Regions from separate parts of the Homo sapiens genome. Here all the other regions are linked to region 1. The links come from fine-mapping of genetic effects on gene expression. A gene starts in region 1. Each other region holds a variant in brackets. All regions are shown on one strand. Distances are from middle to middle.

Evidence for each region.
Region 2: its variant is fine-mapped to the expression of RBM6 in whole blood (TOPMed, PIP above 0.99).
Region 3: its variant is fine-mapped to the expression of RBM6 in whole blood (TOPMed, PIP above 0.99).
Region 4: its variant is fine-mapped to the expression of RBM6 in whole blood (TOPMed, PIP above 0.99).

What each region holds. Positions count from the first base shown.
Region 1 is chr3:49,935,383-49,943,483 of GRCh38, forward strand. It overlaps RBM6 (RNA binding motif protein 6), which reads left to right and starts at 4,768. Exons shown (of 21, transcript NM_005777.3): 1 at 4,768-4,843. RefSeq lists enhancers at 4,398-4,920, 4,629-4,688, 4,719-4,768, 4,799-4,858, 4,921-5,442 and a silencer at 4,999-5,198.
Region 2 is chr3:49,966,791-49,974,891 of GRCh38, forward strand. It overlaps RBM6 (RNA binding motif protein 6), which reads left to right. Exons shown (of 21, transcript NM_005777.3): 3 at 680-1,958; 4 at 5,269-5,358. Among named protein-coding and RNA genes, the nearest start is that of RBM6, 31 kb to the left of the region's middle. The variant G/A (reference allele first, on the strand shown) is at 3,214.
Region 3 is chr3:50,184,919-50,193,019 of GRCh38, forward strand. It overlaps SEMA3F (semaphorin 3F), which reads left to right. Exons shown (of 19, transcript NM_004186.5): 14 at 525-613; 15 at 748-789; 16 at 971-1,128; 17 at 1,363-1,430; 18 at 1,695-1,828; 19 at 2,787-4,157. The coding sequence ends at 3,197. GNAT1 (G protein subunit alpha transducin 1) reads left to right here and starts at 6,692. Exons shown (of 9, transcript NM_144499.3): 1 at 6,692-6,913. The coding sequence starts at 6,808. The variant C/T (reference allele first, on the strand shown) is at 3,217.
Region 4 is chr3:49,109,758-49,117,858 of GRCh38, forward strand. It overlaps USP19 (ubiquitin specific peptidase 19), which reads right to left. Exons shown (of 27, transcript NM_001199161.2): 4 at 7,900-8,073; 5 at 7,680-7,813; 6 at 7,302-7,604; 7 at 6,970-7,186; 8 at 6,694-6,850; 9 at 6,523-6,594; 10 at 6,290-6,405; 11 at 5,967-6,187; 12 at 5,687-5,882; 13 at 5,471-5,604; 14 at 5,202-5,360; 15 at 5,006-5,116; 16 at 4,417-4,527; 17 at 4,235-4,336; 9 more. Among named protein-coding and RNA genes, the nearest start is that of USP19, 7.0 kb to the right of the region's middle. The variant C/T (reference allele first, on the strand shown) is at 4,238.

The DNA of each region.
Region 1 (8,101 bases):
CTGGTGTGGCCTAGGTGTTCAAGGCTTAAACTTTGCTTTCCCATCTCTGCTTACTCCTTTACTCCCTTGGTTATCTCATCCAGGCCTGTGGCTTTAGATATTAGCAACATGCTGATACCTCCCAGATTTGCATCTCTAGTCCTGATCTTTATCCTGAACTCCAGACTGATGGAACCGACTTCCAGCTCCACATCTCACTTGTCTACTGGTTATTAGAAAACTCTACCTACCCAAAACTGAGCTCCTGCTCTTCCTACCAAAACTGTTTCTCCCAAATTCTTCCCTATCTTCCTTCATTCCAGTCCAACAGGTCTGTCTCCTGTTTCTACTGTGGCCACACTGCTGCAAGCACCATCCTTCTGTGGTTGGAATTTTTTTTTCCTTGAGATGGGGTCTTGCTCTGTTGCTCAGGCTGAAATACAGTGGCATGATTGTGGCTTCTTCCAAGTCTTGTAGGCTGCTGAATTTGGTTTCTGTAAGGAGGGAGATGGAAAGTTGTTAGAGGGCTCTGAACAGAGAGATATCATAACCTGAATTCCATGTTAACAGGATTCCTCTGATTGCTGTGTGGAAAACAGACTGAAGGTGGGAAAGGGGAGAAGCAGAACAGCTAGTTGGGAGGCTGCTGCAATAATCCAACCACATTGTTTGAACCCAGGAGTTCGAGGCTGTAGTGAGCTATGATCGTGCCACTGTACTGCAACCTCCACACCTTTCTGACCAAGACTGACTTGTCTCATCACACTTCTCCAAAACAATTCTGTTCCAGACTCCTTAATGATCCTTAAAAATTCTAGTCATGCTCATACCTCAGGGCCTTTGGCCTTGCTATTCTTTCTGTTCAGAACATTCTTTCCCCAGGTATCCCAATAGCTTGGTTCTCATCTTCTTTGGGTCTTTATTCCAAGAGCTCAGTGAGGCCTTCCCTCACTGCTCTAAAGTTACAACTTCCCACCAGAACTCCTCACTCTCCTTCCCTCCCTTATTTTTCTCCATAGCATTACCACCACCAGAGAGATTGTGTATCTTTTTTTTTTTCTTTTTTTGAGTTGGAGTCTCTGTCACCAGGCTGGAGTGCAGTGGCACAATCTCAGCTCACTGCAACCTCTGTCTCCAGGGTTCAAGCAATTCTCCTGCCTCAGCCTCCCAAGTAGCTGGGACCACAGGCACACGCCACCAAGCCCAGCTAATTTTTGTATTTTTAGTAGAGACGGGGTTTCACCATGTTGGCCAGAATGGTCTCGATCTCTTGACGTCGTGATCTGCCTGCCTCGGCCTCCCAAAGTCTGGGATTACAGGCGTGAGCCACCACGCCCAGCCTTTGAGACAGTCTCGCTCAATTGCCCAGAGCTGGAGTGCAATGGTGCGATCTTGGCTCATTGCAACCTCTGCCTCCCGGGTTCAAGTGATTCTCCTGCCTCAGCTTCCCGAGTAGCTGGGATTACAGGTGTGTGCCACCATGCCTAGCTAATTTTTGAATTTTTAGTAGAGACGGGGTTTCACCATGTTGGCCAGGCTGGTCTTGTACTTGTTAACTCATGATCCACCCACCTCAGCCTCCCAAAGTGCTGGGATTACAGGCGTAAGCCTCCATTCCTGGCCTAAGTGTACTTTATTTTTGAATGTTTAATGGGCTTTTCTTGCAGAAGACTTTTTTGATCCCATAATGTTGAATTTAGGCTATAAAATCAGGTTACCTTCCCTAAGGGCCCACTGACAGGAACACCAGATGGCCAAGACTAGCAAGTCTTTCAACAATGTAGACAGTACACCTAAGAACTTCAAGCTGGCAGTTGGAAGAACATTAGGTTGAAGATGCTGGAAACGAGCTGCAAATCGAGTTGTGTTGCCCCGTTTTCTGCTAGATTGCTGACTTGCAGTTTCCTTCCAGCTCCTCTGTGACCTTGCACAAGTCAGTCTTGGCCAGATTTATTGCCCAAGAGCTAGCAAGACCTGTGGAAGCTGGGTGGCTTTTCCTTTATGGGTTGAACCTTTAACACAGATGAAGTTTTTTTTTTTGTTTTGTTTGTTTTTGAGATGGAGTCTTGCTCTGTCCCCCAGGCTGGAGTGCACTGGTGTGATCTCACCTCACTGCAACCTCCACCTCCCGGGTTCAAGCGATTCTCCTGCCTCAGCCACCCGACCAGCTGGGGATTACAGGCGCCTGCCACCGTGCCTGGCTAATTTTTGTATTTTTAGTAGAGACGAGGTTTCACCATGGTGGTCAGGCTGGTCTTGAACTCCTGACCTCAGGTGACCCGCCCACTTTGGCCTCCCAAAATGCTGGGATTACAGGCATGAGCCTGTCTGCTATTCTTGAGCAGGGAATACATAATTTGGAAACTCATCAGAAGGAAAAGGGGCTGAGTGGAGGGGAAGGAAATTGCTTTAGTTCAGGAGTTCGAGACCAGCCTGGGCAACATAGTGAGACCTTGTCTCTAAAAAAAAGAAAGAAAGAAAGAAAAAGAATAGATTATGAGCAAATGCATGGAGATAAAGGAAAAGGGGATGAGCCTCCATGACATATTGATTCTCTAATCCAAGTTTTTCTGTTGTACCTATTGTCAGGTTTCAGGTAGAAGGGCTGGGAGGGCCAGGAGCCAGGGCCTTCTGTGGGTGCACGGCCATCAGCCCCTTTTCTTTCTTTCTTTTTTTTCAGACGGAGTCTTGCTCTGTCGCCCAGGCTGGTGTGCAGTGGCGCAAATCTCGGCTCACTGCAAGCTCCGCCTCCCGGGTTCATGCCACTCTCCTGCCTCAGCCTCCCCAGTAGCTGGGACTACAGGCGGCTGCCGCCACGCTCGGCTAATTTTTTGTATTTTTAGTAGAGACAGGGTTTCACCGTGTTAGCCAGGATGGTCTCGATCTCCTGACTTCGTGATCCGCCCGCCGCGGCCTCCCAAAGTGCTGGGATTACAAGCGTGAGCCACTGCGCCCAACCTCTTTCTTTTTCTTTTTTGAGACGGAGTCTTGCTCTGTTGTGAGGCTGGAGTGCAGTGGCGCGATCTCGGCTCACGGCAACATCCGCCTCCCGGGTTCAAGCAATTCTCTGCCTCAGCCTCCTGAGTAGCTGAGATTACAGGCATGCGCCACCACGCCCGGGTAATTTTTGTATTTTTAGTAGAGACGGGGTTTCACCATCTTGGCCAGACTGGTCTTGAACTCCTGACCTCGTGATCCACCCGCCTCGGCCTCCCAAAGTGCTAGGATTACAAGCGTGAGGCACTGCGCCCGGCCTCTTTCTTTCTTTCCTTTTTTCTGAGACGGAGTCTTGCTCTATTGTCCAGGCTGGAGTGCAGTGACACAGTCTAGGCTCACTGCAATCTCTGCCTCCCGGGTTTAAGTGATTCTCCTGCCTCAGCCTCCCGAGTAGCTGGGATTACAGGCGCCTGCCACCAAGCCCGGGTAATTTTTTTTTTTTTTTGCGACAGTCTCCCTCTGTCGCCTAGGCTGGAGTGCAGTGGCGCTATCTCGACTCACTGCAAGCTCCGCCTCCCGGGTTCACGTCATTCTCCTGCCTCAGCCTCCTGAGTAGCTGGGACTACAGGTGCCCGCCACCACGCTCCACTAATTTTTTGTGTTTTTAGTAGAGACAGGGTTTCATCGTGTTAGCCAGGATGGTCTTGATCTCCTGACCTCGTGATCCACCCGCCTCGGCCTCCCACAGTGCTGGGATTACAGTCGTGAGCCACTGCGCCCAACTTCTTTCTTTCTTTCTTTCTTTTGAGACGGAGTCTTGCGCTGTTGCCAGGCAACAGTGCAGTGGCGCGATCTCGGCTCACTGCAACCTGTGCTTCCCGGGTTCAAGCAATTCTCTGCCTCAGCCTCCTGAGTAGCTGGGATTACAGGCATGCGCCACCACGCCTGGCTACTTTTTGTATTTTTAGTAGCGATGGGGTTTCACTATCTTGGCCAGGCTGGTCTTGAACTCCTGACCTCGTGATCCACCCACCTCGGCCTCCCAAAGTGCTAGGATTACAAGCATGAGCCACTGCGCCCGGCCTTTTTCTTTCTTTCTTTTTTTCTGAGGTGGAGTCTTGCTCTATTGTCCAGGCTGGAGTGCAGTGGCACAGTGTCGGCTCACTGCAACCTCTGCCTCTGCCTCCCGGGTTTAAGTGATTCTCCTGCCTCAGCCTCCCGAGTAGCTGGGATTACAGGCACCTGCCACCAAGCCCGGGTAATTTTTGTATTTTTGGTAGAGATGGGGTTTCACCATGTTGGCCAGGCTGGTCTAGAACTCCTGACCTCAGGTGGTCCACTCGCCGCGGCCTACCAAAGTGCTGGGATTACAGGCGTGAGCCACCGCGCCCCGCCAACCAGCTGGAGATGGCTTAAACTTACTCCCGAAGAAGCTCCCTTCCATTTCTCTCACACTAACGGACAATAAGGAGGCCTCGAGCTAGGCAGGCCAGGGCCGTACCCGAGCTGCTGGCAGGGAGCAAACCTCAGGAAAGTCAAGCCACCAAAAAACTGTAAGCCTCAATCAACTGAGAGGAAAGCACAAGAGGACCAGGTGTCACAGGGCAGAGGCCAAACCACAACTCCCAGCAGGTCACGCGGAGTAGGGCGGGTAAGCGCGCCTTCTTATTGGATGGCGATGGACAGCGTGCTCTTACGACCCACCCCAGAAGGCAAGTCCCCTGCGCGCGGGGCACGGCGGGAGTAAGAGTCTGCGGGACCGGCAGCTGTACTTCATCTCCCAGCGGGCCGAGCGCTGAAGGCAGCGGCGCGGCGCCTTTGTGGTAGCAGTGGCCCCGCGCGGAGGAAGTTCCGGTGTCCGCGGCGCTGGGTCGGTGGCGGAGGCTGAGGAGAAGGAGGAGCGGGCCGTGGAGGCTTCGCCGCCTAGGTAAGGGCCCGGGACTGGAGGGGAGGCGTGCCAGAGCCTGCCAGGGAATAGCCAGCAGACAGGCCCGCTCTAGACATCGCAGGCCCGCGCAGCCTGAAAGCTGTGGCTTCAGTGTCGCGGGGCGGCTGCGGCCTCGCTCGGGAAGAAGACCAAGCAACGGTGAGATGAGGGAGGCGCCGCCCGTGGCAGGAACGCCCCGGAACCGTCGCGGGCCTGGGGCGGGGCCCGGCGCGGCAGTAGATTACCGGTCCCGCCGCGGAGCGGCCAGCTGTGAGGCTGGGGCCGGCGCGTGGTTGCGGCTCTGTGCTCCTACTCTTCGGAGCTGTAAGCGGGCTGTTCTTGCGGTTTTCCTGTTTCAGATCCAATTCTGTGGCATCACTAGGAAGGGAGCTCTTGTGCTTAGCACGTAGCCTCGTCCTCAGACTTGGACAGACACAAGGGAGGCTCCGCTGGACCGGAGGGCACAAGAGCTCCGAGCCCGGTCGTCGGGGCGGTAGAACCTGGAAGCGGGAGAGTGGTCTGGTGGGTTCTGCGCCCGTTAGGCAATGAAGGAGAAGGATGTTTTATCGTATTCACGCTTTAGATTCCATTAGCGGTGTAAATAGATGTTTTTCTCTTTATTTTAGAATTGACGTTAGGCGAATGGGTTCAACTTTGGGAATGCCTTTTTTTTTTTTTTTTTTTTGAAGGAAGGGCCCTGTTTCGTAGGGTACATAAACCGTGAGCGTAATTGTATTTTTTGCATATTCCAGGTTTGCTTGTGAAGGTCAGAGTAGCCGGATTTAAGTGAAGGAGTTCAGTAGACATGCAGACATGGTCACCTGGTTCATTTTCTGAACCCTGGATTGTGCCCTCGGCTTGCTAGTTTCCACCTTCCTATTGAGAAATGCCACCAGCGTGAATGATTTAAATATGTCACCATTACTGAATTTGTGAGGTCTCTAACGAGAGGTGTCAAGAGCTGGTGCGTGATGGTAGGACTGGCAGTGAAGAAAGTAACTAAATAATATGTTACCATTTTGGTGAAACACAAAAGTTGAATTTGAACCTTGTCTCAGAAACTAGCATCTAACTAGATACCTAACCTGCAGGACAGGTCCCAGGTCTCTCTGGATAGTTGTAGCACCTTTCCTTATAGAATTCTATTACCAGGCCGAGCCTGGTGGCTCACACCTGTAATCCCAGCACTTTGGGAGGCTGAGGTGGGGAGTTCGAGACCAGCCTGACTAACATGGAGAAACCGCGTCTCTACTAAAAGTACAAAATTAGCCGGGCATGGTGGCACATGCCTGTAATCCCAGCTACTTGGGAGGCTGAGGCAGGAGAATCGCTTGAACCTGGGAGGCGGAGGTTGCGGTGAGCTGAGATTGCTCCATTGCACTCCAGCCTGGGCCACAAGAGTGAAACTCTGTCTCAAAAAAAAAAAAAAAAAAAAAAAAAAAAAACCCGCAAAACTCAACAAAAACCAACATAGTAGAGGCAGCGTTTCGCCTTATGCCCAGCTAATTTTTTGTATTTTTTTAGTAGAGGCGGAGTTTCGCTATGTTGGCCAGGCTGGTCTTGAACTACTGACCTCAGGTGATCCACCTGCCTTGGCCTCCCAAAGTGCTGGGATTACAGGCGTGAGCCACCGTGCCCGGCCCTGTTATAGTATTTCTAAAACAAATTGTGAGCCTGGGCAACATCGCAAAACCCTGTCTCTACAAAAAATACAAAAAAAAAAAATTAGCCAGGCGTGGTGGCATGCTCCTGTTAGCCCTAACTACTCAGGAGGCTGAGATGGAAAAATCGCTTGAGCCGGGGAGGTAGAGGTTGTAGTAAGGGGAGATAGTGCCACTGCACTCCAACCTGGGCCACAGAACAAGACTGTCTCAAAAAAAAAAAAATCAATTAAATAAATTGTGGTAAATATATATTTTTATGTATGTTTATGTATATTTTAACAAAATTTGCTCTTTAAACCATTGTTAAGTATACAATTCAGCCAGGCACGGTGGCTCACGCCTGTAATCCCAGCACTTTGGGACGCCGAGGTGGGCGGATCACGAGGTCAGGAGATCGAGACCATCCTGGCTAACACGGTGAAACCCCATCTCTACTAAAAATACAAAAAATGAGCCGTGCGTGGTGGTGGGCGCCTGTAGTCCCAGGTACTCAGGAGGCTGAGGCAGGAGAATGGTGTGAACCCGAGAGGCGGAGCTTGCAGTGAGCCGAGATTGCGCCACTGCACTCCAGCCTGGGCAACAGAGCGAGACTCCGAGACTCCATCTCAAAAAAAAAAAAAAAAAGTATACAATTCAATGGTATTAATTACATTCACAATGTAGTACAAGCAATACCACTATTTCTGAAACTTTAGTATCTCAAACAGAAACTCTGTAACCAGGGAGGGCATGGTGGCTCACGCCTGTAATCCCAGCACTTTGGGAGGTCAACGTGGGCAGATCACTTGAGTTCAGGAGTTCAAGAACAGCCTGGCCAACATGGTGAAACCCCGTATCTACTAAAAATACAAAAATTAGCCATGCATGGTGGCATGCATCTGTAACACCAGCTACTAAGGAGGCAGAGGTTGCAGTGAGCTGAGGTCATGCCATTGCACTTCAGCCTGGGCTGCACAGCCAGACTCCATCTCAAAAAAAAAGAAAAAAAGAAACTGTAACCATTAAACAAGTTAACTTCCCATTTCCTCCTCTTAATCTCTAATCTACTTTGTGTCTGTCTGTGAGTGTGCTTGTTCTAGGTACTGCAAATACTAAATGGAATCATACAGTATTGTCCTTTTTTGTGTCTGGTTTATTTCACTTAGTGTAATGGTTTCAAGGTTGATCCATGTTGTACTGTGTATCAGAATTTCATTCCTTTTTAAGGCTTAATCCGTTGTGTGTGTACACTACATTTTGTTTATTAATTCATTTGTAGCAGACACTTGGGTTGCTTCTGCCTTTTGACTATTGTAAATAATGATGCTGTGATCATTGGTGTACAAATATCTCTTTGAGTCCCTGCTTTGAATTCTTTTGGGTATATACCCAGAAGGGAAATTGCTATATGGTAATTATTATTATTATTAATTATTTTATTTATTTTTTTTTGAGACAGGGTCTTGCTCTGTTGCCCAGGCTGGAGTTCAGTGGCACAGTCATGGCTCACTGCAGCCTCGAACTCGAGCTCAAGCAGTCATCCCGCCTCAGCTTCCTGAGTAGCTGGGACTACAGGCATGGGCTGCCACAACCAGCTAATTTTTTTGTTTAATTT
Region 2 (8,101 bases), 31 kb after region 1:
AGTTATAATAGGACCCAGGTTAGAGTGCTTCTTGGTGGAGCCACTGTAGAACTGGGATTTAGATGCAGCCAGGGCTGATGCTCAGCTGGTGAACACTGGTGTGCTTGTTCCTACTGGTGATTTACAACCAGTGTTTCTTCTTTTTGGGCCTGCATCCATTTTGATTGGGTGGTGTCCATGCTGTATCTGTAATAAAATATTTTTGAATGTTACCGCTGGATGCAGCGTGAGAAAGATACCTCCTGAAACTTACTGTAAGAAATTTACAGTGCATTGATTTTTCTGATATATAGGAATCGTCATGTTGACCTTGGAATTCTTAAGTTCCCTGGCTGTAGGAAATGGAAATTTTTGTAGTATGTCACCATTGTTAGCTTATTTGGTATTGCGGATTTTCCCTGTTGCAGGACTGGGTGAAAGCTTTTTCTGCAGCAGTCATGTTGAAAACCTTGTGTTGACTTTCCTCGTGTTCTGAAATGGGAGCATAAAAGTTTACTCCGCCACTTCGTCTTAAAATAGCAAAACTTTGCTGTTTTCTGCAGATCTAGGACCTTGTTACAGAACTCTGCCAAAAAAAAAATGTTTACAGAAGAATGTGCTGTGATTAGAGAAGAATATGCTGGTGTGTAGATTTCAAACTCTCTGGACAATATGAATAACACTGTCTTTGTTTCTACAGTGGGAGCCAAGAAGAAAGGTTTGCTCCCGGGTGGAACAGGGATTATCCTCCTCCTCCCCTTAAGAGTCATGCTCAAGAGAGACACTCTGGCAACTTTCCTGGCAGAGATTCACTTCCCTTTGATTTCCAGGGGCATTCGGGGCCTCCTTTTGCAAATGTAGAGGAGCATTCTTTCAGCTATGGAGCTAGAGACGGACCGCATGGTGACTATCGAGGAGGGGAGGGACCTGGACATGATTTCAGGGGGGGAGATTTTTCGTCTTCTGATTTCCAGAGCAGAGATTCATCACAGTTGGACTTCAGGGGTAGGGACATACATTCTGGGGATTTTCGGGATAGAGAAGGACCACCTATGGACTATAGGGGTGGAGATGGTACTTCTATGGATTATAGAGGTAGGGAGGCACCTCATATGAACTACAGAGACAGGGATGCTCACGCTGTTGACTTCAGAGGTAGGGATGCTCCTCCATCTGACTTCAGGGGCCGGGGCACTTATGATTTAGATTTTAGAGGCCGGGATGGATCCCATGCAGATTTTAGGGGAAGGGATTTATCAGATTTGGATTTTAGGGCCAGAGAACAGTCCCGTTCTGATTTTAGGAATAGAGATGTATCTGATTTGGACTTTAGAGACAAAGACGGAACACAAGTAGACTTTAGAGGCCGAGGTTCAGGTACTACTGATCTAGACTTTAGGGACAGGGATACGCCACATTCAGATTTCAGAGGTAGACACCGATCTAGGACTGATCAGGATTTTAGGGGCAGAGAGATGGGATCTTGTATGGAATTTAAAGATAGGGAGATGCCCCCTGTGGATCCAAATATTTTGGATTACATTCAGCCCTCTACACAAGATAGAGAACATTCTGGTATGAATGTGAACAGGAGAGAAGAATCCACACATGACCATACGATAGAAAGGCCTGCTTTTGGCATTCAGAAGGGAGAATTTGAGCATTCAGAAACAAGAGAAGGAGAAACACAAGGTGTAGCCTTTGAACATGAGTCTCCAGCAGACTTTCAGAACAGCCAAAGTCCAGTTCAAGACCAAGATAAGTCACAGCTTTCTGGACGTGAAGAGCAGAGTTCAGATGCTGGTCTGTTTAAAGAAGAAGGCGGTCTGGACTTTCTTGGGCGGCAAGACACCGATTACAGAAGCATGGAGTACCGTGATGTGGATCATAGGCTGCCAGGAAGCCAGATGTTTGGCTATGGCCAGAGCAAGTCTTTTCCAGAGGGCAAAACTGCCCGAGATGCCCAACGGGACCTTCAGGTATGTTGATGGGGTGGATTGCTTTTTTTTTTTTTTTTTTTTTTTTTTTTGAGACGGAGTCTCGCTCTGTTGCCCAGCCTGGAGTGCAGTGGTGCGATCTCTGCTCATGCAAGCTCCGCCTCCTGGGTTCATGCCATTCTCCTGCCTCAGCCTCCTGAGTAGCTGGGACTGACTACAGGCGCCCACCACCACGCCTGGTGTGAGCCACCGCGCCCGGCCTGCTTTTTTTTTTTTTCTTTAAATAAGACTTTTGTGAAGGATGACATTTATTTATTTATTTATTTATTTATTTTTGAAACGGAGTCTTGCTCTGTCACCCAGGCTAGAGTGCAGTGACATAATCTCAGCTCACTGCAACCTCCGCCTCCCAGGGTCAAGCAATTTTCCTGCCTCAACCTCCTGAGTAGCAGGGATTGCAGGCATGTGCCACCATGCCCAGTTAATTTTTGTATTTTTAGTGCAGATGGGGTTTCACCATGTTGGCCAGGCTGGTCTCGAACTCCTGACCTCGTGATCCGCCCACCTCGGCCTCCCAAAGTGCTGGAATTACAGGCATGAGCCACCGTGCCTGGCCAGTTTTTTTTTTTTTTTTTCATTTTATTTTTATCTTTGCATAACCATTAGAAAGCAAAATTTGTATTCAGGAGTGGAATGTAGGAATGTAAATCTCTAGAGAAAAGGTCCTCAGCTCAGATCATATATATGTGTGTGTGTGTGTATATATATATATGAATATATATGTATATATATGAATATATATTTATATATATATATTTCTTTTTTCTTTTATTCTTTTCTTCCTGCTTCACTTTCCATTTGTGTATATATGTGTGTGTATATATGAAGGAACTATATATATATATATTTGAGACACGGTCTTGCTCTGTCACTCGGGCTGAAGTGCGGTGGTGTAATTATGGCTCCTTGCAGCCTTGACCTCCCAGGCTCAAGCGATCCTCCCACCTCAGCCTTCTGAGTAGCTGGAACTACAGATGTGCGCCAGCCACTATGCCTGGCTAGTTTTTTTTTTTTTCCTTTGAGAATGAGTCTTGCTCTGTCGCTCAGGCTGAAGTGCAGTTGTGCGATCTCAGCTCACTGCAACCTCTACCTCCTGGGTTCAAGGGGTTCCCCCGCCTCAGCCTTCCAGGAAGCTGGGACTACAGGTATATTTCACCATTCCTAGTTAGTTGTGTTTTTTTTTTTCTTTTTTGAGATGGAGCCTCACCGTGTTGCCTAGGCTGGAGTGCAGTGGCAC[G/A]ATCTTGGCTCACAGCAACCTCCGCCTCCCGTGTTCAAGCAGTCTTCCTGCCTCAGCCTCCTGAGTAGTTGGGACTGTAGTTGTGCACCACCAAATCTGACTAATTTTTGTATTTTTTGTAGAGATGAAGTTTAGGCATGTTACCTAGGCTGGGCTGGAACCCCTGATCTCAAATGATCCACCCTTCTCAGCTTCCCAAAGAGCTGGGATTTCAGGCATGCACCACCATGCCTGGCCAGCAATTTTTGTATTTTTTTGTAGACAGAAGGTTGCAACATATTTCCCAGGCTGGTTTCAAATTCCTGGGTTCAAGCAGTCCCCCCACCTTAGCTTCCCAAAGTGCTGGGATTACAGCAATGAGCCACTGCCCCTACCCTTTTGATGTGTGTTTATTCATTATTTTGTTTTATGATGCTGATTTACATGCCTTGGGATAATTTAGTTTGAAAGTATATGTCTTTGGGAGTTGACTCTTGCAACTCTCGCTTAGTTAGACCTGTGATTGTTTAGGGATCATTTTCTTATTTAAATTCATTGAGAGAATACTTAGGAGTCTCCCTAGTTGTGAAGAGCTGATATTAATGTTGCAACTATCCTCTTGCAGCTAACGTAATTAACTTAAATGTTAAACTTCTTGAATATATGATTTAAGCAAGGAGGGTTATATTTGTAATTTTACAATGAAGGTATTCTCTTTTAAAGTAGATTTGGCTGGGTACAGTGGCCTATGCTTGTAATTTCAGTGCTTTAGGAGGCTGAGGTGGGAGGATCACTTGAGGCCAGGAACTTGAGACCAGTGTGGTGCAACCTCAGGAGAGAATGTGAGGGTGGGGAAGAAAAATAAGGCCAGGCACAGTGGCTCATGCCTGTAATCCCAACACTTTGGGAGGCAAAGGTGGGCAGATCATTTGAGGTCAGGATTTCAAGACCAGCCTGGTCAACATGGTGAAACCCCATCTCTACTAAAAATAACAAAAATTAGGCCAGGCGTGGTGGTTCTTGCCTGTAATCCCAACACTTTGGGAAGCTGAGGCAGGTGGATCATTTGAGGTCGTGGGTTTGAGACCAGCCTGACCAACACGGAGAAACCCCATTTCTACTAAAAATACAAAATTAGCTGGGCGTAGTGATGCATGTGTGTAATCCCAGCTACTCGGGAGGCTGAGGCAGGAGAATCCCTTGAACCTGGGAGGCAGAGGTTGCGGGGAGGCAGAGGTTGCACTATTACACTCCAGCCTGGGCAGCAAGAGCGAAACTCCATCTGAAAAAAAAAAAAAAAACGAAAACCAAAACCAGCCAGGTGTGGAGGTGGGCGCCTGTAATCCCAACTACTTGGGAGGCTGAGGCAGGAGAATTGCTTGAACCTGGGGGGCGGAGGCTGCAGTGGGCTGAGATTGTGCCACTGCACTCCAGCCTGGGCGACAGAGCGACACTCTGTCTCAAAAAAAAAAAGACATTATCTAGTCATCTTCTCTCACCAGAGGTATGAAGTACTGCTAGTTTACAGCCCATTCTCCAGCTCTCAGACCAGGGAAATTTTTCTTTTTTTTTGAGACGGGGGTCTCGCTCTGTCACCCAGGCTGGAGTGCAGTGGCACAATCTTGGCTCACTGAAACCTCTGCCTCCCAGGTTCAAGTGATTCTTCCGCCTCAGCCTCCTGAGTAGCTGGGACCACAGGCGTGCACAGCACAGTTGGCTAATTTTTGTATTTTTAGTAGAGACGGTTTTACCATGTTGGCTAGGCTGAGAAAATTACTGTTTTGAGACTATGTTAGTGTGTCTTTCTGGTTATTAAAGTCTTACTCAGTCTTGTCTCTCGTAATGTTTTGCTTTACTTTGAAGACTCTTTCAGTGAGACTTGGTCTTAGCACATTTACATTCTTATGATTTGAAGTCACATTCTGGCACTCAGAACAATAGAGAAAATTGTAATTTTTTATATCTTCACGTGACATGTCATTATCATTTTTGATCCTGAGTGGCTAAATTTCATGTTGATTTGTGTTTTGTGCAGTAAAGTATATTTGTGAAATAATTTTTCATTCTCAATTTAAGGATCAAGATTATAGGACCGGCCCAAGTGAGGAGAAACCCAGCAGGCTTATTCGATTAAGTGGGGTACCTGAAGATGCCACAAAAGAAGAGGTAAGGCATGTCTTCTCTCCTGTTTCTCTGTGTCAATTAAAAATTAAAAAAACCTTTTAATTTGAAAAATTGTAGATTCACAAGAAGGTGCAAAGAAATGCACAGAGAAGTCTTGTGTATTTTTTTCCCATCTTCCCTCAGTGTTAATATTTTGCACAACTGTGGTATAGTATCTAAACCAGGAAATTGACCCTGGTATAATACATAAAGTTTATTCAGATTTCACCATTTATACATGCACTCACTGAGGTGAGGTTAAAAAAAATTATGACAAATGATTGCTCTCTTTAGACCTGATCACATCCTTTAGAGCATATTATTTCTGGAGTATGTACATAAGGATGCAGTTTATTTACAATAGTAAAAACTAGAAACTGCCTAACTGCCCTGTATCAAAGGATTGGCTGACTAAATTAAGTCTGAACTTATGGCAGTGCTCGCTCTGTGCCAGGCATTGTGTGATACTTACAAGCATTAGTTCATTTAATTATCACATATTTAATATAATCACTCTAAATATTAAGCATTACTGTATGTAATTGTTCTAGATACTGAGTGACACAGCAGTGTATATTATCAAGTCACTGCCTCCATGGATAATGAAAAAGCAAGCAAAAGGATTACACAATTTTAGTCAGCAAATAAATACTCTGAAGAAAACTAAAGTACAGGCGGGGCATGGTAGCTCGGCCTGTAACTCGGAGACAGAGTCTTGCTTTGTCGCCCAGGCTGGAGTGTGTGGCGCGACCTTGGTGCACTGCAACCTCCACCTCCCCAGTTCAAGCAGTTCTCCTGCCGCAGCCTCCCGAGTAGCTGGGACTACAGGCACACACCACCACGCCCAGCTAATTTTTGTACTTTTAGTAGAGACGGAGTTTCACCACATTGGTCAGGCTGGTCTTGAACTCCTGACCTCAGGTTATCTCCCTGCTTCTGCCTCCCAAAGTACTGCCATTACAGGCATGAGCCACCAAGCCCAGCCCATTTTTGATTTTTTTGAGGCAGCGTCTCACTTTGTTGCCCAGGCTGGAGTGCAGTGGCACAATCACGGCTCACTGCAGCTTCTACCTCTTGGGCTCAATCGATCCTACCACCTCAGCCTCCTGAGTAGCTGGGACCACGGGCATGCATGCTAATGGGGCTGTTTTTTGTATTGTGTAGTTAGGGAGACATCACTGAGGAAGAGGCATTCGAGCCCAGGCTTGAATGCCGTGAGAGAACAGTTTATATGAATATGGGGAAATGAACTGCCCAGGCAGTTCATGCTGAGGAAGTGCTGTGGCCCTGGACTGTAATGAACCCAGTACATCATTTTATATTTAACACATGAGAAACTGGACACTAAAAGGTTACACAGCAAGTGAGCAGAGAGCTTGGAATGCACACAGTATGATTTCAGAGCTTAAGCCTTTGAAGGTTATGCTCTTCTGCTTTTCTTTTTTTTTTTTTTTTTTTGAGACAGAGTCTCACTCTGTCACCCAGGCTGGAGTGCAGTGGCGCGATCTCGGCTCACTGCAACCTCTGCCGCCAGGGTTCAAGAGATTCTCCTGCCTCAGCCTCCCAAGTAGCTGGGATTACAAGCACCTGCCACTGCACCCAGCTGATTTTTGTATTTTTAGTAGAGATGGGGTTTCACCATCTTGGTCAGGCTGATCTTGAACTCCTGACCTCAAGTGATCCACCCGCCTCGGCCTCTCAAAGTGCTGAGATTACACGCATGAGCCACCGCGCCCAGCATTTTGTTTGTTTGTTTGTTTGTTTGTTTTTGAGACAGAGTCTTGCTCTGTCACCCAGGCTGGAGTGCAGTGGCACAATCTTGGGTCACTGCAACCTCCGCCTCTCGGGTTCAAATGGTTCTCCTGCCTCAGCCTCCTGAGTAGCTGGGACTACAGGCATGTGCCACCACGCCCGGCTAAGTTTTTGTATTTTTAGTAGAGACGGGGTTTCACCGTGTTAGCTAGGATGGTCTCGATCCCCTGACGTCATGATCCGCCTGTCTCGGCCTCCCAAAGTGCTAGGATTACAGATGTGAGCCACCGCTTCTGGCCCTGCTTTTCCTATGTACCTGAGAATTTTTAAATATTTATTTATTTATTTTTGAGACAGGGTACTCCAGACTGGAGTGCAATGGCCCAATCAAGGCTCACTACAGCCTCAAACTCCTGGGCTCAAACTATCCTCCCGAGTAGCTGGGATTATAGGTGTGAGCCAGTACTCCTGGCTAATTTTTTTTTTTTTTTTGAGATGGAGTCTCGCTCTGTTGCCCAGGCTGGAATGCAGTGGTGCGATCTTGGCTCACTGCAAGCTCCTTCTCCCGGGTTCACGCCATTCTTCTGCCTCAGCCTCCCAAGTAGCTGGGACTACAGGTGCCCGCCACCACGCCTGGCTAATTTCTTGTATTTTTTAGTAGAAACGGGGTTTTACCGTGTTAGCCAGGATGGTCTCAATCTCCTGACCTTGTGATCTGCCCACCTCGGCCTCCCAAAGTGCTGGGATTACAGGCGTGAGCCACCGTGCCCGGCCAATTTTTTTTTTTTTTTTTTTTTTTTTTTTTTAAAGATAGTGTCTCGCTCTGTTGCCCAGGCTGGAGTGCAGTGTCATGATCTCAGCTCACTGCAGCCTCAGCCTTCCAGGTTCAAGTGATTCTCCTGCCTCAGCCTTCCAAGTAGCTGGGATTACAGGTGTGTGCCACCACACCAGGCTAATTTTTGTATTTTTAGTAGAAATGGGGTTTCACCATGTT
Region 3 (8,101 bases), 250 kb after region 1:
CAGAGTCACTTCTTCATCCTCATCCTTTGGTGCCTTCTCCCTATTGATGGGATAACAGAGGCTAGGGGTGAGAAAACCCCATTCCCACTTCCATCCCCAGGGGCCCAGGAGAACAGGGACACTGGGCATCTGGGGACTTATGTATGTATGGCAGGAAAGGGGTGGAGACAGATGGTAGGCACCTCCAGGATACAGAGGCCATACACATGCTCGTGTGTGCACACACATGCCACAGTGCACCCCCTACAGTTCCAGCAGCCCAAACACAGGAGAATGCATGCCCCAGTGTCCTGTTCTCAGCAGGGCCCAAAATCAGGGTCTGGGTTGGTGGGGGCAGACCATGGCCATGACCCCCTATGTCCTGGGCCAGTCCCCTTTGACCTGGGGAAACTCTTCCACCTTGGCACAAAGCTCCAGCTCCAATGCCCTAGGGGGGTTTGGGCCCTGGTGGGGGAAGGGGCTGAGGCTGGTACCCCTTCCCCAGCATCCCCAGCCCCACTGAGGCCCTGCCCGGCCCGTTCCAGACCGCGGGACAGTGCAGAAGGTCATTGTGCTGCCCAAGGATGACCAGGAGTTGGAGGAGCTCATGCTGGAGGAGGTGGAGGTCTTCAAGGTGGGTGTGACACCACCCAGTCCTGACCTCCCCACCTTTACCCTCCCCCCAGTCCCAGCCTCTGACCTGAGACCTCTAGGTCAGGGCAGGGAGGGGGTCCCTGGCATCCCAAGCTGATCTTTATCTTTTTCTAGGATCCAGCACCCGTCAAGACCATGACCATCTCTTCTAAGAGGGTAAGCCTTTGGCGAGGTGAGCCAAGGTTGGGGACAGGGCCTGCATCCCCTCAGGGTCATGCCCTTGGCACAGGGATGGGTAAACTGAGGCATGGAACAGGGGAGAGGAGCCCAGCCTAGCTGGCTGTTGGTGGGGCTGGCTATGGGACAGGAACTGACAAGGCCCTACCCTTTGCCCCAGCAACAACTCTACGTGGCGTCAGCCGTGGGTGTCACACACCTGAGCCTGCACCGCTGCCAGGCGTATGGGGCTGCCTGTGCTGACTGCTGCCTTGCCCGGGACCCTTACTGTGCCTGGGATGGCCAGGCCTGCTCCCGCTATACAGCATCCTCCAAGAGGTGTGGACCCCTAGACACCTAGAATTTTAGCAACCAGTCCCAGGGCCCTATCCTAGGGGATTGGGGGTGCATGTGATATTACCCGGGGTGCATGTGATATTACCCTAGGGGAGTCTTATGGGTAAGACATCACTGCCCTGGGGAAAAAGGGCCCTGCCCTGGAGTCAGGGAGATACAGGGACCTGGGGGGGCAAGCTTCCTGGGAGCACTCCTTCAGGGGCTATCCTCATCCAGGCGGAGCCGCCGGCAGGACGTCCGGCACGGAAACCCCATCAGGCAGTGCCGTGGGTTCAACTCCAATGGTGAGTATGCTGGGCCTCACTGTGGGGTGCTGCTCACACTGCAGAAGTCCACGCAGCCCACGAAGCTGCTCACAGGGCCCCCACTGTAAGGGTGCTCTGATGGCTAATGGAGGGTGGGGGCTAATGGAGATGGGATGTCCCTAGTTGCCCCATCAACACAGAGCACTACATTGGTGAGTGGGTGCCCCTCGGTGCCTGCCCCGAAGCAGTCAGCAGGCTGCCCGGAGGTGATGCTGCTTTTGCTCAACCCCTCTCACTCTAAAGCCAACAAGAATGCCGTGGAGTCTGTGCAGTATGGCGTGGCCGGCAGCGCAGCCTTCCTTGAGTGCCAGCCCCGCTCGCCCCAAGCCACTGTTAAGTGGCTGTTCCAGCGAGATCCTGGTGACCGGCGCCGAGAGGTGAGTTCCTGCGCCCGGTGCTGCACCGTGGATGTGAGTCCTTGCACAGTGGTGAAATGTAGTAGAGGAGTGATCTGGAGCAACTCTCATGCTGTGAAACCCCTTCCAAGCTCCCTTCCCTACATGCAAATCCTTTGAGTGAAAACAGTTACATGGAAACTCCCTGGGATTGGCCTCATTCTATGGAAAGTGTTTCTGGGTATGCCTGTTCACATGAAAATTCCATATGCATACCACATTGGGGGTGTACCTTCTACAAAAACATCATGTGAGTGAGCTCCAGTATGTGGAAATTCTATGGGGCCCTCATTTTATGAAAATGCCCTACAGGTGTCCCTGTTTATGTGGAAATTCTATGTGGTTATCCCAATTGGATATTCTCGTTAAATGGAAATTCTGGCTGGACGTGGTGGCTCACACCTGTAACCCCAACACTTTGGGAAGCCAAGACAGGCAAATTGCTTGAGGTCAGGGGTTCGAGACCAGCCTGGGCAACATGGTGAAACCCTCTCTCTACCAAAAATACAAAAATTAGCTGGGCATAGTCATGCATGTGGTCCCAGCTACTTGGGAGGCTAAGGTGGGAGGATGGCTTGAGCCTGGGAGGCAGAGGTTGCAGTAAACCGAGATCATTCAACTGCATTCTAGCCTAGGCGACAGAGCCAGACCTTGTCTCAAAAAAAAAAAAAAAAAAAAAAAAGGAATTCTGTGTGTGCTTCAAATTTTCCTCATTGTACAGAACCTCCTTATGGTCATCACTCCTGAAATGGAAATCTGTACAGATGCCTTATTCAAATATCTCTCATTATGTAGAAACTTCATGTGGTTTTTCTGGCATATGGAAATCCCACATGGGTGCCTCTACACGGAATGGCCACAAAGGTGGTCTGATCTGGTTGCTGGCTAGGGCCATAGGGTGGTCACAGAGCCTCTGAACCCCCTCTCCTTGCCCCTGCAGATTCGTGCAGAGGACCGCTTCCTGCGCACAGAGCAGGGCTTGTTGCTCCGTGCACTGCAGCTCAGCGATCGTGGCCTCTACTCCTGCACAGCCACTGAGAACAACTTTAAGCACGTCGTCACACGAGTGCAGCTGCATGTACTGGGCCGGGACGCCGTCCATGCTGCCCTCTTCCCACCACTGTCCATGAGCGCCCCGCCACCCCCAGGCGCAGGCCCCCCAACGCCTCCTTACCAGGAGTTAGCCCAGCTGCTGGCCCAGCCAGAAGTGGGCCTCATCCACCAGTACTGCCAGGGTTACTGGCGCCATGTGCCCCCCAGCCCCAGGGAGGCTCCAGGGGCACCCCGGTCTCCTGAGCCCCAGGACCAGAAAAAGCCCCGGAACCGCCGGCACCACCCTCCGGACACATGAGGCCAGCTGCCTGTGCCTG[C/T]CATGGGCCAGCCTAGCCCTTGTCCCTTTTAATATAAAAGATATATATATATATATATATATATAAAATATCTATATTCTATACACACCCTGCCCCTGCAAAGACAGTATTTATTGGTGGGTTGAATATAGCCTGCCTCAGTGGCAGCATCCTCCAAAACTTAGACCCATGCTGGTCAGAGACGGCAGAAAACAGAGCCTGCCTAACCAGGCCCAGCCAGTTGGTGGGGCCAGGCCAGGACCACACAGTCCCCAGACTCAGCTGGAAGTCTACCTGCTGGACAGCCTCCGCCAAGATCTACAGGACAAAGGGAGGGAGCAAGCCCTACTCGGATGGGGCACGGACTGTCCACCTTTTCTGATGTGTGTTGTCAGCCTGTGCTGTGGCATAGACATGGATGCGAGGACCACTTTGGAGACTGGGGTGGCCTCAAGAGCACACAGAGAAGGGAAGAAGGGGCCATCACAGGATGCCAGCCCCTGCCTGGGTTGGGGGCACTCAGCCACGACCAGCCCCTTCCTGGGTATTTATTCTCTATTTATTGGGGATAGGAGAAGAGGCATCCTGCCTGGGTGGGACAGCCTCTTCAGCCCCTTCTCCCCTCCCCGCCTGGCCAGGGCAGGGCCACCCCACTCTACCTCCTTAGCTTTCCCTGTGCCACTTTGACTCAGAGGCTGGGAGCATAGCAGAGGGGCCAGGCCCAGGCAGAGCTGACGGGAGGCCCCAGCTCTGAGGGGAGGGGGTCCGTGGTAGAGGCCTGGGGCCGGTAGAGGCTCCCCAGGGCTCCCTTATGTCCACCACTTCAGGGGATGGGTGTGGATGTAATTAGCTCTGGGGGGCAGTTGGGTAGATGGGTGGGGGCTCCTGGTGGCCTTCTGCTGCCCAGGCCACAGCCGCCTTTGGGTTCCATCTTGCTAATAAACACTGGCTCTGGGACTAGACTTTGGCTTCTCTCCTTGGTCAGGGGATTTAGAGCCACACGTGGTGGGCCTGGGGAGCCAGGTGGGGGGCTGGGAAGGGAGTAGATTGGCTCCATTTAAAGAAACCCAACATGTAGAAACCACATTTAGTTTGACAAACCTGGGCTGCTGCACCACCCCAAACACTTGGGTAGTGCGAAGGGCTGTAGAGACCCCTCAGGGCCCACTCACTCCTCAGGGTCAGGGAGGGTGGGTGGAGCCTGAAGGCTGAAAGTGGCAGAAATGCAACGGCCTCACTCCTGGACAGATCCCCATCATCCAACAGGGTGGGTGTAGAAGCTGCCAGCCTGTGGTAGGAGCCAGCATTCACTTCCCACGCATACTATTTAGAGACAGCCGTTAGTGCTCAGTGTCTGGTGCCCCGGCACCCCCTTGTGGTCTCTTGAGTCTGTGGCAGAGTTGAGTGCTGAAAGGCAGCCAGGTTCCAGGGAAGAGTCCAGCCAGGAGGCTCAGGGTGCCTGGAGGAGCCTTTGAGAGCCCAAGATTTGGGTTTTCCTATGGAAGTTGAGGGTGGGAAGTCTCTAGAACCTGGGAGCTCAACCTGAACAATTTCTGCCCGGCAGTGAGCCCTGCACCTGAACAGAGCACCAGACCCCCTAAGCTGAGGCAGGCAGGCCCTGGAGATAATCTTAGGCAGGCCTCAGAGCACCCACAGCAGACAGAGCAGGAGCAGGATAGGTGAGCCCCATTCCTCCATACCCCAGGGAACACTACACCTGCTCTGGGATGCAATTTCTCCACCTGGCAACAGGCCTGCAAAACATTCTCTGGAAGAGCCTGGCCACTTCTGCAGATTAGAGACTTTGTTGCACCCAAATTCAAGTGTACATATAGGCACAGGCGCCTGCAAGCATGCATGCACACACACAGTCATACACAGGCAGAGATGGACATGCACAGGCACACATATGCTCAGGTACAAACAGGCATGTTTACACCCCTGCGTATAAGCAAGTGCACACATGCAAACCTACACAAACTGCAAAACACACAAGCCTATGTGTGCATGAAGAGAATACACAAAGCATATTCACACATGCATACACATGTGTATACATGTGCACACATACATAAGCATGCGCACAGGCACGTGATTCCTATAAGAGCACATGCACTCACAAAGGCATAAACATGCAGGCACACATGTACACACAGGTATTCATGCACAAATGTGTCAAGTTATTGCTCGCTTGGTGCCAGCAAAAGACACACCCATGGCCGGGCGAGGTGGCTCACACCTGAATCCCAGCACTTTGGGAGGCCGAGGTGGGTGGATCACAAGGTCAGGAGATCGAGACCATCCTGACCAACATGGTGAAACCCCGTCTCTACTAAAAATACACAAAAAATTAGCTGGGTATGGTGGCACATGCCCGTAATCCCAGCTACTTGGGAGGCTGAGGTGGGAGAAGCTTAAACCAGGGAGTTGAAGGTTGCAGTGAGCCAAGATCGTGTCACAGCACTCAAGCCTGGCAACAGAGTGAAACTCTGTCTCAAAAAAAAAAAAAAAAAAAAAAAAAAAAGGCCAGGCACGGTGGCTCATGCCTGTAATCCCAGCACTTTGGGAGGCCGAGGCGGGCAGATCACGAGGTCAGGAGACTGAGACCATCCTGGCTAACACGGTGAAACCCTGTCTTTACTAAAATACAAAAAAAGTAGCCCGACGTAGTGGCGGGCACCTGTTGTCCCAGCTACTCAGGAGGCTGAGGCAGGAGAATGGCGTGAACCTGGGAGGTGGAGCTTGCAGTGAGCTGAGATTGCGCCACTGCACTCCAGCCTGAGCAACAGAGCGAGACTCCATCTCAGAAAAAAAAAAAAAAAAGACACATACACCGAGGCACACAGAGCAGATATGCATGCCCACCACAGTCCGCTGGAAGCAGAGGACCTCCTTGGGGCAGCTCCAGCCTGTGATATGGGATGAATGCAATGCCCACTGTTTCCCTCTCTCTGGATTCCCTGCAGGTCATAAAATCCCAGTCCAGAGTCACCAGCCCTTCTTAACCACTTCCTACTGTGTGACCCTTTCAGCCTTTACTTCCTCATCAGTAAAATGAGGCTGATGATATGGGCATCCATACTCCAGGGCCAGTGTGAGCTTACAACAAGATAAGGAGTGGTGCTGAGCCTGGTGCCGGGCAGGCAGCAGGCATGTTTCTCCCAATTATGCCCTCTCACTGCCAGCCCCACCTCCATTGTCCTCACCCCCAGGGCTCAAGGTTCTGCCTTCCCCTTTCTCAGCCCTGACCCTACTGAACATGTCTCCCCACTCCCAGGCAGTGCCAGGGCCTCTCCTGGAGGGTTGCGGGGACAGAAGGACAGCCGGAGTGCAGAGTCAGCGGTTGAGGGATTGGGGCTATGCCAGCCCGATTAGAAGGGTTGGGGGGGCTGAGCTGGATTCACCTGTCCTTGTCTCTGATTGGCTCTTGGACACCCCTAGCCCCCAAATCCCACTAAGCAGCCCCACCAGGGATTGCACAGGTCCGTAGAGAGCCAGTTGATTGCAGGTCCTCCTGGGGCCAGAAGGGTGCCTGGGAGGCCAGGTTCTGGGGATCCCCTCCATCCAGAAGAACCACCTGCTCACTCTGTCCCTTCGCCTGCTGCTGGGACCATGGGGGCTGGGGCCAGTGCTGAGGAGAAGCACTCCAGGGAGCTGGAAAAGAAGCTGAAAGAGGACGCTGAGAAGGATGCTCGAACCGTGAAGCTGCTGCTTCTGGGTAGGGGTGTGGGCCCAGGTGGGGCCACTGCCACCAGGTCATTGGTCTGGAGGCAGGCAGGCAGCCCTTCTGTGAAGCAAGGATTCCCTGGGAAGCAGTATGAGCCTGTGACAGAGTAGGGCACAGGGTGGGAGCCCTGGCCAAGCAAGGCCAGGCCTGACAGGTGGTGTCCTAGTCCCCCAGGGCTGGACATCCCACAAAGCCCCTCTCCAGACGGCTCTGCCTCAGGTGACCCACCCTCCCCAGAAGTGCGTGCCAACCACACTCTTGCACGGGTGTGTGATGCCGACTTTTCCGTGGCTGGGTTCCCGCAAGCTTCATGCAGCCTTTGGTTTGATACGCCTGCTAGGCAATGCTCAGAAGCCAGGAGCCTCACTGGGAGCCCGTTATTGGGCTGCTACTTTGGGAAGGGGATGGCCATAGTCCTCCTGGGAGTGGGGAGCCTCTAGGACCACCCAGATCCACAACGAATGGCCCTCAGGTGCCAGAGGGCTGTGGCTGATAGACCTACAAAGCAGCCAGAGGGGCTGGCGGGTACTGAGGCCCAGTGGGAGTAGATAAAGCCGCGTCCACTGGACCATGGGCACTGAGGAGAGATGGGGCTGATCCAGGCCTGCCTCAAGGTCACTGCCTGACCTCTCAAGGGGAAAAAGCAGCTTCAAGAGGGGCTCCACCCAAGCTCCCCAGGGTCTGGTCAACCAGCTGGAGGTGGGTGAGGGACCAAGCCAGTCCCACTTTCCCCCAAGGCAGAGAGGCTAAGCCGGAAATCTCATTAACTGTGCCCAACGCCCTCGCAGGGGCAAGCTCAGAAAGGATGTCAACTCTGCCCTCCCTCCTACCCAAAAGAGCTAATTCCCTCTGAGCCTCCTGGAGACACCTGCACCCCTTCAGGTGAAATGCAAGGGGTTTACCCGCCTCAAATAACCCAGTGCTTGCGGTACCAGAGGCTCCCACGAGGTGGCGATGACGCTCCGGGATTTCTTCATTGCAGTCTCACAGCATAATAAAGGCTGCCTGTGCCGGGGTCTTGGGGACTCCCCTGTCCCAGAACAGTTGAGGTCGTTGAGTCCCCTCGTTGGCTTCCTTTCTTCACTTTCCTGGCATTTGCAAACCTTGTGACTTCAGGATGTCAGGACTTAATTTGGATGGGGGGGTAGGTGTGGCTACGGGGTCGGGGCTGGCGCTCAG
Region 4 (8,101 bases), 830 kb before region 1:
ACCAGAGGCCATGGCCAGCCCAAATAGGCCTTGTCTTGAGTGCACACTAGAACTCAGGGACATCACAAGTGAGGGTGTGTGGGCCAGCATGTGGGGAATGTGCAGAGGAAATCTAGGAGAGTGTCAGGTATAGTTCATTCACAGCATAGTGCCCAGTGAGGTTCAGAGCAGTTGCCTGACCTGTGCCAAGTAGGTGCCAATGTGCTTGCCAGTGGCAGCATGTTAGTGTACTTGTATGTTTGTTAGTGTCCCCAAGGCATGGGGATGCCTCTGGCTAAAGCTTTGATGTTAAGAGAACTCTGCAATTCTCATGAATCCCAAGGCTCAATGGGCCTGTGGCTGGAGGAGAGGAAGCTATATCCCCCAACCCGGCCCCAGTCTGTGAACTGTCCCCCAGTATTCTGTAAAGCCTCCCACATGCCTCACCTGGCTGGCAGCAGCCTCAGCTGCAGGGCCTAGGTCTGGGTGGTGCTCAGAGTGACCTGCCCTGGGGGGCCTCTCCACAGGAGAGTTCCGCCGGCGGTAGAAGAGTACATAGGCATAACGCGTCACAACCTGGCTCTCGTCTACCGTTGTCACTGTGCTGTCATCAAACAAGCGCCAGCCTACAGCAGGGTGGGAAGAGTGTGAACAAAGTCTGCACCACCACCCCTACCACCTATCCTGCTGGCTGTGTGTGCCCTCACCCACGTCACTGCGCTGACTGCTACGATCATTGGGCAGGCGTGCACAGGCAGTGTAGTGGCCACCAATCATGCCTCCATAGTGGTTGATGACAGCATATAGATCGTAGCTGGGCAGCTGCTCCTCTTTCTGACCAATGCAGAACTTGCTCAGGTCCAGGTTCCTGCAGGTCAGGTCCAGTCAGGGAGGGGTGAGACAGGCAACAGGCGCTCAGGATGCCCATCCTGGTCCTCACACCCCACCCACAGTTACCAAGGTCCACTGCTTACCTAACAGGGAACTCCACCAAGTCATTGATCTTGTCACGCCAGATAAAACTACGAAAGGAGAAGCGCTTGAGCTGCACGATGAGAACATTTGGCAGGCGCCATAGCAACAGCTGCTTGGAGGCCTCACGGTGCTGTTTGCACTGTGGGCAGTACCTGGTGGGGACAGAGATTGGGTCAGGACCAGCAAGTCTCTCTCTTCTCCATCCTGCCCCCTTATCTACTTGCTGCTCTGTTCTCACCAGGCCTCCTCGGGTGCCAGCACCTCAGGCCGTGTGAAGAGGTTGAGGCACTGGTCCAGGGTGAAGTGGCCGGCCCGGGCAGCCTCACCGGCAGAGCCTGGATCCTCAGCACATTCCAGCTCCTTGGAGGCTACCAACACAAACTCCTGCAAGCGCTCATTGTTCCGCCAGACGAGAGCCAGGCTACAGTCGTCACCCAGCTCCAGTGGGGTGTCTCCTGGAGATTCGCAGGGAGAGAGGTCATGCAGCTGTGGAGAACAGCCAGCTCAACCCACCCCATGGCTCCCACCCACAGCCTCAGACACCTTTGTCCTCTAGCCGCTGCTCTCGGTTGGATGAATCAATTTTATAGATGAAGAACTGGGGTGTGTGGGCATTCATAGCTTCACTTGGATGCTGGTACCCAGGCACAGCAGCTGTGTGAGAACATGATAATCAAAGCTTCCCTGCCCATCAGGGCCTCACCAGGCCCACCAGGCCCTAAACAACAGCCCCCTCCATCCTCCCTTATCCTCCTCCCCAGCTTCTAGAGCCTTTCACTGGATCTTACCTTCGGGTCGGGACACCCTCTCGCCAGCTGGCAAGGAGCCAACCTCAATGGGCCCACTGGCCAGCATCTCAGAAGAAATTCCACTGGTGCTGGGCACAGGACCCCGGTCAGGGGCTGCCCACACCCGGGGAAGCCCTGTGTCCCCCTCAGCCATAGGGGTCACCAGCTGGAGCTCAGGTGGCTGAATGGGGTCTCTCTCGCTGTCCCCAGCCTCCAGGGAACCTGTGGAGAGCAGTGTGGTGCAGCCAGGGCTCTGAGACTCCAAGGCCATGCGGCCTGGCTGAAAGGGTGGCTGGAATACACTCACAGAGTACCTGGCAACAGAGAACAACGCAAGTAAGACTCCTGACCAGCCCATCTAGCACCTCTGCCCCCACCTACACCACTCTAGTCCAACCACTGGGCACTTACCGGGCATAGCCCTCTAGCAACTGAGCGAGGCGGGCATAAGTGAGGCGTGAGGCAGGTACACTGACCAGGAAGGGGTAGCCAATGTTCTCAGGTCGGCAGAGGCCCTTGTGGTCAGGCCAGTGGGTTTTCTGGCAGAGCCTGACGGGAAGAGGAAGACAAGGATAGGCCCTTAGCCCCATCTCCTATGACTCCATACTGGGGGCTAGTCATAGTCCCTGGGAACTGGGTACGCCAGCCCTGCCTCCCCCAGAGCCTGGTAAAGTAGGGTGGCAAGTAGAAAGCTTAAGCATATGTGCCTTGGTGTGAAGGGAAGGAGCAGGGTGGCACATGGAAGGTGGAAAGAAAGGGTAGGGGAGACCATGGGGGTCCTCACTGGTTGCAGTAGCCCACACGGTAGCACCGGGTACAGCGCTTCAGCTTTTCATCCTCCGACTGTTGCTTCCGCTGGCAGGCTGCACACTTGGAGATGGGGACGCTGGGCACCTGGGGGCGCTAGGGTGGGTCGTCTGGCTCAGCAAGACCAGGAAGAAGTGCCCCACCCACCAGGGCGCTGTGCCATCAGGTTGGCCCCCACTCACCTGTTGCACCTCTAGCACCACTACCCGCTCCTTAGCCAACTCTGAGGATAGCAGCTCAAAGCAGAGGAGCGTATCAGATGGGGACACAGTGTCCAGTGAGTGGGAGGGTAGGAACACACGATGAAAACGATTCTTAATTACCTGGGGACAGAGAACACACAGATCCCACGTGAGGATAAGCCCTTTCCCTAGCCCTGCCCCAGAGTTTAAGAAGGCTTGGCCCTGCCTTGGGTCTATGTGGGCAGTGGTGAGGTCTGTAGGCCCAAATAGGCTTATGCCTCTGCTGGCACCTGTCTCAGTGCCCAATGCCATAAGGAGCCTGGTGCATCAGAGGGCCTGAAAGACCAGGTGTGAGGCAGATATCAACCACACCAGCTCTCCACACTGAGGGACTCTGCCCTGCTATAACTAGCATAGCCTTATAAGACTGTAACATATTATCATGGAGGGTCCACATTCAAAGAGCCTCCTCCCCACTCTTACCCCTAAGAAAACCAACACTGTCAGGCTAAAGGCTAGGAACCCCTGGGGAGAGCTAGCACACACAACTGGGATAAAAGGAGAGAGCAGCAGGATAGAGGGAGAGGCAGAGCGAACATAGGGATAGTCCTGCAGCTCAAGCTCCTTGTCTAAAAAGGGAAATGCAGTTGGGATCCACCACCACAAAGGGGAATAAACCCTGATAATGGCTAGGAACTGAGGGCACTTCTGTTGCACAGAAAAAATAACAGCACATCGCCTGTTTTTGTACAGTCACAGGCATACTCATGTGTATGTCTATTTTTATTTTATTTTATTTTATTTTTGAGACAGAGTCTCACTCTGTCACCCAGGCTGGAGTGCAGTGGCGCGATCTCGGCTCACTGCAACCTCTGCCTCCCAGGTTCAAGCGATTCTCCTGCCTCAGCCTCCTGAGCAGCTGGGACTACAGACATGTGCCACCACGCCCGGCTAACTTTTCCTGTATTTTTAGTAGAGGTGGGGTTTCACCATGTAAGCCAGGGTGGTCTGGATCTCCTGACCTTGTGATCCATCAGCCTTGGCCTCCCAAAGAGCTGGGATTACAGGCATGAGCCACCACGCCTGGCCCTATTTTTATTTTTTTATCTATTTATTTATTTATTTTTGAGACAGAGTCTCACTCTGTCACCCAGGCTGGAGTGCTGTGGTGCAATCTCTGCTCACTGCAACCTCCACATCCCGGGCTCAAGTGAGCCTCTTGCCTCAGCCTCCCAAGTAGCTGGGACTATAACACGTACCACCATGCCCAGCTAATTTTATTTCTTGTAGAGACAGTGTTTCACCAAGTTGCCCAGGCTGGTCCCAAACTCCTGGGCTCAAGTGATCTGCCCACCTCGGCCTCACAAAGTGCTGGGACTACAGGCATGAGCCACTGTGCCCAGCCCATGTGTATGTCTGTAGATGCCAATGACTGTACACACGTCTGTGGTGAGTACACACACACATCCACACATGTGATAGCCCAAGGAAGGACAAAGATACCTC[C/T]GCCAAACGCAGGTTCTCAGGCTTCACATGAACACTCTGAGAGAGGGAGTCCAATACTTCGCTCGCAGTGGAGTTCTCCTTGCTGACGCTCACCAGGAACTGTGGCAAAAAGGGCAGTCAGTGAGGGAGGTGGGCCACGTTCTCTAGAACAGCCCAGAGGGTAGGGGCTTACTCCTCACCTTGATGGGCTTGCTGTGGGGCTCTCGGGCAAAATAAAAGACAGGGAGAACCTTTTGCTTTTGTGGCAAGGGCACCGGCAGATAAAGAAACGGGTCAAAAGTGATGGAGACCTGTGGATGTAGAGGTGGCACTGGGTAGCTGCACACAGAGTGGGAGATAAGATGCTCATGCTCAGAGAGCCCATTCCGGGGCTTCTGATGGCTCTCAGGGCCCCCACAGCCAACCAGCAAACTCTCAGGCTTCAGGACACTAGACAGGGCAGGAGGACCACCAGGAAATAACAATCCTTCTTTCTGGCACTCAAAGCCCTACTCAGCTTAGCCACTTTACGAATTGGCCTCACACTTGCACCCCATGTGCCCACAACCCTGCTACAACACCTTTGAGCTCTAACATCACTTTTCCCTCAGTCAGGAAGCCTACCCTGAGTGGGCTCTTCAGCCCAAATAGAATCCTAAGGCCTCCCTGCCAGCTTCTTTGCCCAAACCTTGCCCTGTAGCACCTTAAGATGCACATGCCTCTGAACCTAATGTGACCAGAATAGCTGAGCTGAACTAGGGGGTCTCTTTCCAGGGGAGCCCATCACACCTTGGCACACACAGGGCACACCAGCTTCGACTTGTACTGCCCCTGAAATAGGTCCACGATGAAAGAGTCATTCCTCATCTTGTGCCGCTGCCATGCTTCCTCAGCTACCACCTGAGAGGCAGAGTGGTGAGAACCAAAGAGTACCAGGGGCTGGGATGCTCATGAGACATGCCCACCCTCTGTCCCTAACCCTGACCTCATCGGGCCGCCCATCTGAATCCACGGTCTCTGTGTAGGGCTTGTTCTGAATGCGATTCAGGTCCTCGTGCAGCCCATCCAGCAGGAAAGCCATGAACTCCTGGGCATCATGCTGTGCATAGCCTGTGAACTGGCTGGCCTTACTCGCCACAATGGCCTGGATACAGGAGCCAAGGTGTGAACATGAAGCCCTAGCACCCACTGCACACCCAGCTGGCTGGCCCTCCCCGCCCCCTCCAGCCAAGGGTGACAGTGGTCACAGATCACCTTCAACTTGGAAGGCTGGAAGGCATGGTGGGTGCCCTTCCACAGCGCCCGAAGCAGCACGGCAAAGCCAATGGCCAGACGCCCACCAGTCCCTAGTGGGTTGTTGTAGTTGATCTCAGCCTCAAAGGAGCGGTCTAGGAATAGTAGCCGAGCAAAGGTGTGAGGAACAAAGGCACTCTCTCTGCCCATAACCCAGGCTCCAGGCCCTGCCCTCACCATGGAAGAAGTCCCGGAGTTCCCGAGTGTTGGACAGAGACTGAATGACGCTGTTCATGAAGCAGGTGTTGCCTAAATTGACAAGGCCAGTGAAGCCTGGCAGACACACCTTCTTCTCTTCCTCTTCCTCCTCCTCCACGCTGTCTCCACTAACTGGGCTGTGGGGCATGGGAGGCACCATGCATGTAGGCTTGGGCTGCAGGAGCAAAGACGACATGAGAGAACAGCCCCAAGACTCTCCAGCCTCCATTCTTCGTCCTTCCCACCCCAGAATTCTCACCGAGGCCAGGTGTGTCTCTGGCTTTGGGGTTACATGCTCCATGGGTGTGCGGGTTGCCACACTGTCTAGCCCTGTGTCCTCAGATCGTGCCTTGGATTTATCCTTCTCCACAGCCCGGGCCTCCTCCTGGCCTGTCAGGGGGTGGGGAGCACCTCCTGGTGGGGTTGAATCCAGAGGGGTTGGACCTGTCGGCACGGCAACCTTTGCACCACCCACTGCACCTTAAAAAGGGGGAATGAGAGGGCTGGTGGTTAGCAGCATGTGACAGGGGTTTGGGTCCTGGTCACGTGGAACTGGGCAATGAAGGGAGCTCGTGTGCAGACCTCGTGCAGCCGGGGCCTCCAGGCCCCCCCAGCGCTGACTCTGCCTCTTACGAAGGCAGATGTCGATGCGAGAAGCCGTGAAACAGAAGGTGCACTGCTCTGGCTCAATCAGATTCCTGTGGGAAAAGGCTGAACTCAGGGACTTAGGAGGAATGAGCATCAGGATAGATGAGCCAGGGAGATGGAGCCCACGGGGTAGGACAGGCACAGTGGTGGGGCCGGGCACCACCCACCTGAGCTTCACCTGCCAACGGAAGGTGGTGTGGGGCCCACAGCCCGGGTGCAGCCTCAGGAAGTTTCCATCCCTGCAGAGGCACAGCAGGATAGGAGGAAGGACAAGAGGAAGAGCATGAGACATACTGTCCCACCTGAGGCATTGTTTGCCCCATCATCTACCCACCCACCTGGTCTGGAAGATGAGCGTGAAGTCCTGCTCACGGAAAAGTACTCTTGAGGTGTCCCTGCAGATCTCCTTCACGTACACGTGCACCACCACTGAATCCGGGCCCTTCTCATACGAGTCATTCTTGACAAACGCCAGGTTCACCATCGACTCGGGCTCTATATTGAGACCATGGCTCAGCCCCAACCAGGACAGGTTCCAGCCTATTGCTACTCTCTATCCACCTACAAACTTTGCAACCCAACCTAGGGCTCTGCCTGCCCACCCCCACCTTTACCATCCACCAAGGTTGCAGCATCTGCTGCCACTGCCATCTCCTCCTTGGCACAGTCATCTTTCCCAGGGTTTCTGCTCCGGACCATGGCTGGAGAGACTGGGTCATTCCCGGGAGGCACTGCTTTCTCTCCTGCCAAAGGGGCTAAATTCTCCTCTGAGCCCAGGAGGCAGGTTTGGGAGTTCAGCGGTGGTATGCAAAGCTGTTCATCAGCCTCAACCTATTAATGGCAAGATTGTGGAAAGAATCAGCCCTGGGTCTGCCAGGTGGCTCCCACTCCAGTGCACACCCTTTCCCCCCATCTCCTAACACCCAAACAGGTGCCCAGCTCTCACCTGGGTGGCTGGGTCAGCCACGAAGGGTGGGGCATCACCCCGGGGTCCAGGGTCATCCCTGGACCCGTCCCCCTCTGGCCCTCTGCAGAGATGCACAGCCCTCTTGGCGCTGGGCCCTGCCTGGGCCCCGGGGCCAGCCCCTGCGCCTACCTCACCACGGCCCTGGGCCCGCTTCTGGTTCCGGGCCTCCTGCTTAGCCCGGTGGGGCTCAGGGCCTGGCTCCAGGGCAATGGGAGACAGTTCCTGCCCATTCTCCTGGCACCGCAGCCCCGGCACCAGCTCCTGGGTCCCTAGAGGTTTCTTCTGCCAAAGATACAGCAGTCAGGCCCTGTCGACTACACTGGTATCCCTACCCAACCCTGTACTACTAGAACTCACCAGGAGGGAGGGCCACGTGAGCATAGGCACCTTTTTGGGCAGTGTCAGGTGCAGGAGACTGCCCTTGCGGGTTTGCACTTTAGCACAAGAGCTTTTTATCTCAGCATAGAAGACACCACCCCACTGCTGACCACCTGGGGACAGAGCAGGGTCCATGAGGTAGGATAGGAGATATCAGAAGATTCAAACATACTACTGTGCTCAGGGCAGATGGACACACCTGCAAACCGCACCACACAGTCTGTATCTGTGAAAGCAGCATCTACATCCTCCAGCTGCAGGGGACCTACTCCCACACGAAGCTTGACAATCACCTCTTCTGCACTCTGCCTCCAATCGAGCAACAACTCTGGAGTGGGAGTAGCCAAGAGATCATGAGGGTCTTCACAAGCTCCTGATGGTGATAAGCAGGTAACAGAGAC